2 linked regions of the Homo sapiens genome follow. The protein of the gene in region 2 purifies or fractionates together with the protein of the main gene of each other region. This does not show direct contact. Each region holds a gene or a part of one and is shown on either strand. Other genes may lie near its edges. The genes, in order: FAT3 and DCDC1.

The links.
Region 1: the proteins of DCDC1 (region 2) and FAT3 purify together in Homo sapiens (affinity purification with mass spectrometry; one large-scale study listed by BioGRID and IntAct). This does not show direct contact.

Annotation. Positions count from the first base shown.
Region 1 is NC_000011.10:92,794,527-92,798,358, reverse strand, and holds part of FAT3 (protocadherin Fat 3 isoform 1 precursor), read right to left. Parts: intron 524-3,832; coding exon 1-523.
Region 2 is NC_000011.10:31,307,173-31,311,004, forward strand, and holds part of DCDC1 (doublecortin domain-containing protein 1), read right to left. Parts: intron 737-3,832; coding exon 467-736; intron 1-466. UniProt on the Homo sapiens protein: Microtubule-binding protein which plays an important role in mediating dynein-dependent transport of RAB8A-positive vesicles to the midbody during cytokinesis.

The sequences.
Region 1 (3,832 bases), about 61 Mb from region 2:
GCAGCCTCACTTAGGCTGCCTGAGTATTGAGAAAAGAGAAAAACTGGGGCATTATCATTTTCATCAACAATCTGAATATTGACTGTAGCATTGGAAGCCATTCCTGCCATATTGGTGGCCTGAATGATGAGTTGATAAGAGGATGTGCGCTCATAATCCAGGGCCTTCTGAGTGGTGATGACTCCAGAATATGGATTTATGGTAAAGATCCCATTAATGTCTCCATCTTTGACTTCATAAATGAGGGTAGATTGACTGATGGCAGAGATTAGAATGACTGATGTTCCAATGTCAACATTTTCATTTACTTCTGCTTGGTAGTCTTTGTGAATGAACTTGGGGTGAGAATTGTCAGACATGGTGACGGAAATGCGCACAATTGCAGTAGCAGACATTGGCGGGGATCCCTGATCTGTGACTTTGATGGATAGGACAAACTGACCCATCGTCGTCATGTCTGGTTCTTTGCAAATGGTGATGATGCCTAGGACCGGTTCGATCTTAAACATGTTCCCAGTGTTCCCTAAAATACAGAAATCAATGGTGAAATGAGTTACATGTGGGTCACTGAAATCTTTTTGATTAACTCTTTATCTATAGGTACCTTACTGCAATGTGGCAAGTAGAAAGCAATTATAGTACTCATCTGTGTCATTCTGAAATAAAATGAGAGGCTTCTCTTTCAGGGGTACTGAAAAGGAACCAAAATGAGTTTCCCAGTATTATAGTAAATTTCAGATCAGTAACTTCTAGATCCAGGTTAAAAACACAATGACAATGACACAGTCTTATGTGCATTCAAGTTGGGAAATAAGAGAGCCCGAAGGAGAGATCTTTCTGCTAAGAATGTATAGGACTTCCTTATTTCCAGCCTTGTGAGAAGACAGATAGATTGGGAAGCCCACATATGAATGCCACTGGTTTAGGTAGCAGTGTCATATTTTCTGTTCTAGGTTTAAAGAAAGAGGGTTGTGGGAATAGTTTCAGAGCATTATAAAGTAGTCAGTTGTTTTCTGATTATCCCAAAAGCAAACTTCGCTACATGGAATTGGTATTATTTCACCCTATCAAAAATGACTTTATCCAAAACACTACTTTGGTGAAGGGGTTTGTTCAGTCAGGTGTGGAGAATTCTTGGCAAGTCATTATTTGCCTTGTAAGTGTGATGAATTTTCCTGACTTCTCTTCTATTCTCCACTCATGCTCTACCCCTCTCTCATGCTTCTGAACACACACATGCACACATCTAGACATAAAAGTAAACATAAAAAGTTATAGGGCAGTTGCTCAATCTGTAACCATTCTATTCACCAAGCATTTGAGGTGTTTCTAGTGTACCAAGAAACTGTTGGGAATCTGAACCAGCACTGCAACCAAGAACCTGAGACATAATCCTTGTGAAACTGAAACCTGGGCACCCCACTTTGATAGAGCTGGCAGGGGAAGGGCTCTGGCCATGACACTGTAGTAGTTTACAGCTCTGCTTCAGAAACATGTTGTGGTTCGAAATCTGGGATTGTTGAGAATGAGAGAAATAACAGAGGAATAAAAAATGGGGAAGACACAATGTGGAGTATGTAAAGAAGGTAGGTGGTGACAGAGCTGAAAGGCAGTGGGTAGTGTGAAGTTGCATCCCTCACCAAGTTGCTTTTTGCTTCTCTTATCAGGCTTTCTCATACTTCTCAAAGAACACATATACTTCTGTGTTGAGATCCTTTCCAATCAAAAGTTAAAGATCTTGGTTATTCAACTCTATCTGGACTTTTCTTTCTGAGTATTGTAGTATGATAGGTATATAATTTAAATGTTAAAATCATTAAAATAGGGACCAGGATTTTCAGGGCAGTTATGAGATGTGTCTACATACCTCTTCCTACATGCTAATTATATAAAGTTTTCCATGTCTGAACACAAAATGGTCATGTTCATGTAACATCTATTTCAAGAAGATACTTGCTTATTTTAAAAGACAAAGTATATCTAATAAAGAGGTCATTTTGATTCCAGCCCCCCCAAATGTGAATATTAAACAATGTTGTCTTTGATGTCGGCATGATTTATTACTTTGCCACCTAAACATGGCCATTTTGTGATGACAATAATAAAAAGTTCAATGATCTTATGAGTAAACGTTCAAGCTTGCAATGAATAGTGTCATAGAATTGAGTGTGAATCCAACAGGTGATCCACAGAACTTTATAAGGGGAAATCACTTCACCTAAGCAATGGTCACCTTCCAGTGATGGCACCAACATGCAACCCTGACTGATGAATGCTACTGGAGCCAGGGATCTCGGTGTTCACTGATTATGGTGCCCGACTGCAGAGTTTCTAGGTAAGTCCTCCCTCACTCCACACCCGGCAGATTTCTTCATGCCCAGAAAGATAGATTATGGTGGGGATGGCAGGGAGCCAGCTTTTGACCTCAAATATAATTTTTTGTTTTTTTTTGAGATGGAGTCTCGCTCTGTCATCCAGGCTGGAGTGCAGTGGTGCAATCTTGGCTCACTGCAACCTCTGTCTCCTGGGTTCAGGTGATTCTCCTGCCTCAGCCTCCAGAGTAGCTGGGACTGCAGGCAGGCACCACTACACCTGGCTAATTTTCATGTTTGTAGAGACGGGGTTTTGCCACGTTGGTCAGGCTGGTCTCAGACTTCTGACCTCAAGTGATCCACCTGCCTTGGCCTCCAAAAATGCTGGGATTACAGGCACGAGCCACTGTGCCTGGCCTCAAGTAGAAATTCATAATCCTGCTATCCCATGGCCGCTGATCTGCTTGTGACACGCTTCCAGAATGGTGTGCTGATACATCAGGTCCAAAGTGGGCCCTTCTCCTCTTTCCCTCTTTGACACACTGACCCATTCTCTTGGAATCCACTTCCTGCTTATTCTTTCCTGCTACACTTGAATCCTGAAAAATTGGCCTCTGTTTGTTTTTTGGAATCTATGGCCTCTTGTAGATTTTTGGCAATTGAATAAAAGCTGTGCTTTTCTTATCATTCCTTATCTAGTACACAACACAGCATCTGCTACAAAGAAGTTGCTTAATATTTGTTGAATGATTGAGAGGAGAGGTAAATCTAAAAAAAATATTTTAAACTCTCTATTCATATGCATCTTGGGATCCATATGCCCTCACCCGAACTCAACTCAGTCCCAGTCTCTCTTGTACAATCCTGCCTCAGACTCACCATTGACACCAAACACAAAACTCAAACTAGATATAAGACCTGAAGCTCTGCACTCAAATTCTGCCTCAGTCCTTCAGGCCAAAATAAAAAGCTTCCGTAGTTACTTTAGAGGACAGGCAGGAGACAGGAAATTTATAGCCCACCAATAAACAGAGTGAAATCTTGCTTATCTGATGTGTGTGAGAAAAGTTAAATAAAACATAATACTTTACACAGCCATTTGTCATTTGCTTCAAAGTGCTGAAGCATCTGGGATCTGCCTGTCTCCCACCCTCAACTGGGAAGAAACTTGCTCCTCTAGGACCAGTGCGGACCAGTGTGGGTTTGTCTGTCTGTCTGTGAAGAGCCCTGCTGGTCATTTGAGATTTATTGTGAACATTGTAATCCTCAATAGTTTCTTACATACAATCAAAGGTCATTTTTTTTGCGATATCAATTGTTCCCATGGTTTTCTGGAAGTTTGGGTTTTCTTTATGAAAGATGTTTTAAGGAAATAACTGTTCTGTCTTGTTTTAGTCAGTTAAAGAAACGACTGGGCACCATGCTGTAGTCTGTAGAGGTCAAAAGATAAGCAGAGCAGTCTTTTCGGTTGGATGGTAAGTTAAATTACTCCTTAAGAAACTCCAAACTGGTTGAAACAT
Region 2 (3,832 bases):
GGTTTGATTTTTGTTTTTACTAATATTTTCTTCTGTCTATGAACTCTCATGTTAACAGTTTATGATAACAATTTGATGTGAAAACATATTTACAAAATTGTTTTATAATAATTTCATTCAATTCAATTCTGTTTCAAACTATTGGTTAAATATCAAAAGAAAGCATTTTTATTTTTAAATAAGTTCGTGTGAGCAAAGATATTTCATGATCCTAGCCTGATTCTGCTTCAAATATTCTTTTCAGAGTTTCTGATTGCCCGGGTTGAAGTGTATCTCATATTTCCCACAGTGTAATTAACAACATTCTACTCTGGTGCTTTCAAAGAAAAAAACAAAAACAAAAACAAAACCCGAGAGATGTGTTACATTTTAATGTCTGAGATAGTCAATTGAAACATTATAAACTCTGCTCAAAGGAAAGAACTTCAACAATAGGTTAAAAAGAACAGAGAACAGCTTTGATTACCTCAGTTGACCCACTGGAGCACTGACAGGTCTGTTTCTCTTGGATGCTGATATAGAACAAGAATTGTTTTTACTGTTTGATTTGTAGCTATCTAGGTCTGATATTTCATCATGGCTGTGATCTGATGCTGTTTGATGTGTGGAGCAATCTTGAAGTCCTGACCCTTCTGATACTGCTGCTGAATGCACGAGTCTGTTGGGGCCAAACTGAGACTGCAAATAATCATCAGTAGTTTTAATAACTGCTTTTGCCTGGGATGACATAAACTCTCTGGAAGAAACAATGCATGGAAGAATACAATTAATTGATTTGTAATCATTTATTAACAAATACCATATAATAACGAGTTGTGTGCTATGTGCTACACAAAATACTACACACTTAGCCATTATTTTGTTTAATGCCTACAATATTCCTGGGAAGTGGTTATTATTTTTATTCCCATTTTACAGATTTAAGAAATTGAGAATCAGTGAGGTTAATTAACTTGCCCACTGTCACATAATCAATAACTGACAGGATGGGAATTTGAACCCAAGCCTGTCCTGAAATAAAATCCACATTCATAACCATTAAGCTTCATTGCTTTACTTAATTCAACCAAAAGGAAGCTTGCATAATGTTTAAAACAATGTAAGTATAACTTTTAAATTCTTAGATCCACTTTATTTTCTAATACTTACTTAGCACTCTGCTGTTAAAAATATGTGGGTCCTACCCTCAAGAAACTTGCAAACAATCCCCCAATAGAGAATATATGTTAAATAAACTGAAACTGAGTGTGTATTAGCCTTAAAGATGAAAATAATTCATTGAAGGCCATTTTAGAATGGGTGGGAATAAAGTCGGTAAAGGCTTCACAGCAGACCTGAGATTAGCCTAACTCATCTCTGTTCAGGACTATCCTGGTTTTGGCACTGAGGGTCACACATTCCAGGAACTCCCTCAGTCTCAGATAAACTGGGTCAGTTGGTCACCCTACTGGTATTTAGGCTGGAAGAGTAGTATGTGGATGAACTATGATGTGTGAACAGGGAACCACATGACCTGGAAGAATATATTAATCTATATAGACACCAAGTTGGGAAGATGAATAGGTATAGAATATACCGGTATGATAAAATAAAATAAGTTTTAATATATTTGCAAATATTGAGCTGTGTGGTGATCACACATAGAGGATAGTCAGGTTCCATGTATTACCATAATCGGAAGTATCTTTGCACAAACCAAATCTGCTTCTTTCCAATTTGCTCATTCCTCAATAGTTATTGCATAATATAACCCCCCCAAACACACCCCCAATTATAAATTAACATATGTTCAGTGTTGAAAGCTCAGCAGGGATTGCCCCTCCTCCAAATCTTTCACATCCACAAATGTCATTATAATCACAATTATTTCTTCCAGCCTGCCCTCTTTATGGTCACAAACGAGTAAAATGGTCAATTATTTCCTCTGAAAAAATGAATGGTAGTCACACATCAGAGGGAAAATAGATGTTTGTGTGTGTGTGTGTGTGTGTGTGTATGTGTGTGAGCTCACACAGTGGACCCAGGGGAACTACACCTCTGGAATCCAAGCAGTTGTATTCTGCTGTTGTTGTTATCATCACATGTTTCTATCCAAGTCTGCCCTAGACTGAGTACAGTACTGGGGAGAGGAGCAGCCTTCCCTACACATTGGATATAACCAGGCTCAAAACTGTGGCAAACAACGCCTTGAAAGGGTCTTTGGACTAGCTCTGGCAAAAGTGGGACCTCCCTGCAGACCACCTAAGCCACTCAGATTTTGATAACGGTGGTGAGTGACGGCATGTGGCAGCAGTCATTTCAAACTGGCAGTGTTTCTGCAGCAATAGCAATGGAGCTTCACACGGTTACCAAGCTCTTCAACCTGGGGGAAGACCAGTAAACAGCCAGGGGAAAGAATCACAGATTTCATAAACAGTTCCAAGTTTCCAATAAATAGTTACTTGAAGAGCAGATTCCCATATTTTTTTAAAAAAATGGAATTCCCTACTTAAAAGTAGAATAAGGTGTCTTTTTTAATGAATGTATTTTTTTCATTATGAAATATTCTTATAAATATACTAATGATTTTTAACATAACAATCCATTATTCTACCACCACAAGGCAAAAGGTTTTTACTTTTTCATATTCTGAAGTTTTAATCATGTTATATCCTCAATTCTATTGCCTTCTGACTAAATACTGTTTTATAACCATTATTCATGTTGCTCTATGCTCTGTATGGATTTTACTGGAATATAATATTTTATCAACTATATTGATATAGCCCTCTTCTACCTAGTTATGCATGGGCTGTCTATCATTTTTGTTTGTCACACACATCTTCCCCATCTTCTGGTAACAGCACTTGCATTCTTTTGGGAATGCAAACTCTTCCCAACTCCACATGATCCTGATAGGGTTAGGACAAGAGATTATAGATTTACCCAGTGAATGGTAAAAATAATTAAATTTAAATATATGGTTCAACTATATATTTGTTTATTTATTACTTGGTTTTCTCTAGTAATTTATATCTGAAAGTGGGAGAAGGGGTAGTTTTTTATGTTAAAGAGTTAATATTATTGGTCCACTATGAATAGTCTTCAGCTTTGATATGTTTTACAACATTGAGGACAGGTTTTCAGTAATTCTTGATTTTTTTTTTTTTTTTTTTTTTTTTTTTGAGATGGAGTATTGCTCTGTTGCCCAGGCTGGAGTGCAGTGGCGCAATCTCAGCTCACTGCAACATCTGCCTCCCAGGTTCAAGCGATTCTTCTGCCTCAGCTTCCTGAGTAGCTGAGACTACAGGCGCATGCAACCACGCCCAGCTGAATTTTTTGTATTTTTAGTAGAGACGGTGTTTCACCATGTTAGCCAGGATGGTCTCAATCTCCTGACTTCATGATCCTCCCACCTTGGCCTCTCAAAGTGCTGGGATTACACCGCGCCCAGCCTCAGTAGTTCTTACACACTCTCAAACTCATCTTTCTTATAACAATTGATAGGTGTTTCATAGCTTGTTAGGTGTTGGAAAGGATGATTACATACCCTTGCAAAGCCAACTTGTCCCACATGGGAATTAAACCCACATAGTCAGTTTGCTAAACTGGTGCTGGAATGAAGGGTGTTAGGTTCCTTCAGCTTTCCAGAAACAGAGAGGCACACTTAGGCTTCAAGTGATAAGGCTTATTATCAAGATACATAGAAAGTTATGAAAGTAAATAAAACCACTCCTGCAGGGCACAAAAATTGGAAGGCCATTCATGGCTGTCAAGGATACACTAGTGACTTAATTCTAGTAGACTCCATGCTTTTTGACTCAGCACCTCCTATCTCCTTCTGTGTCTACCT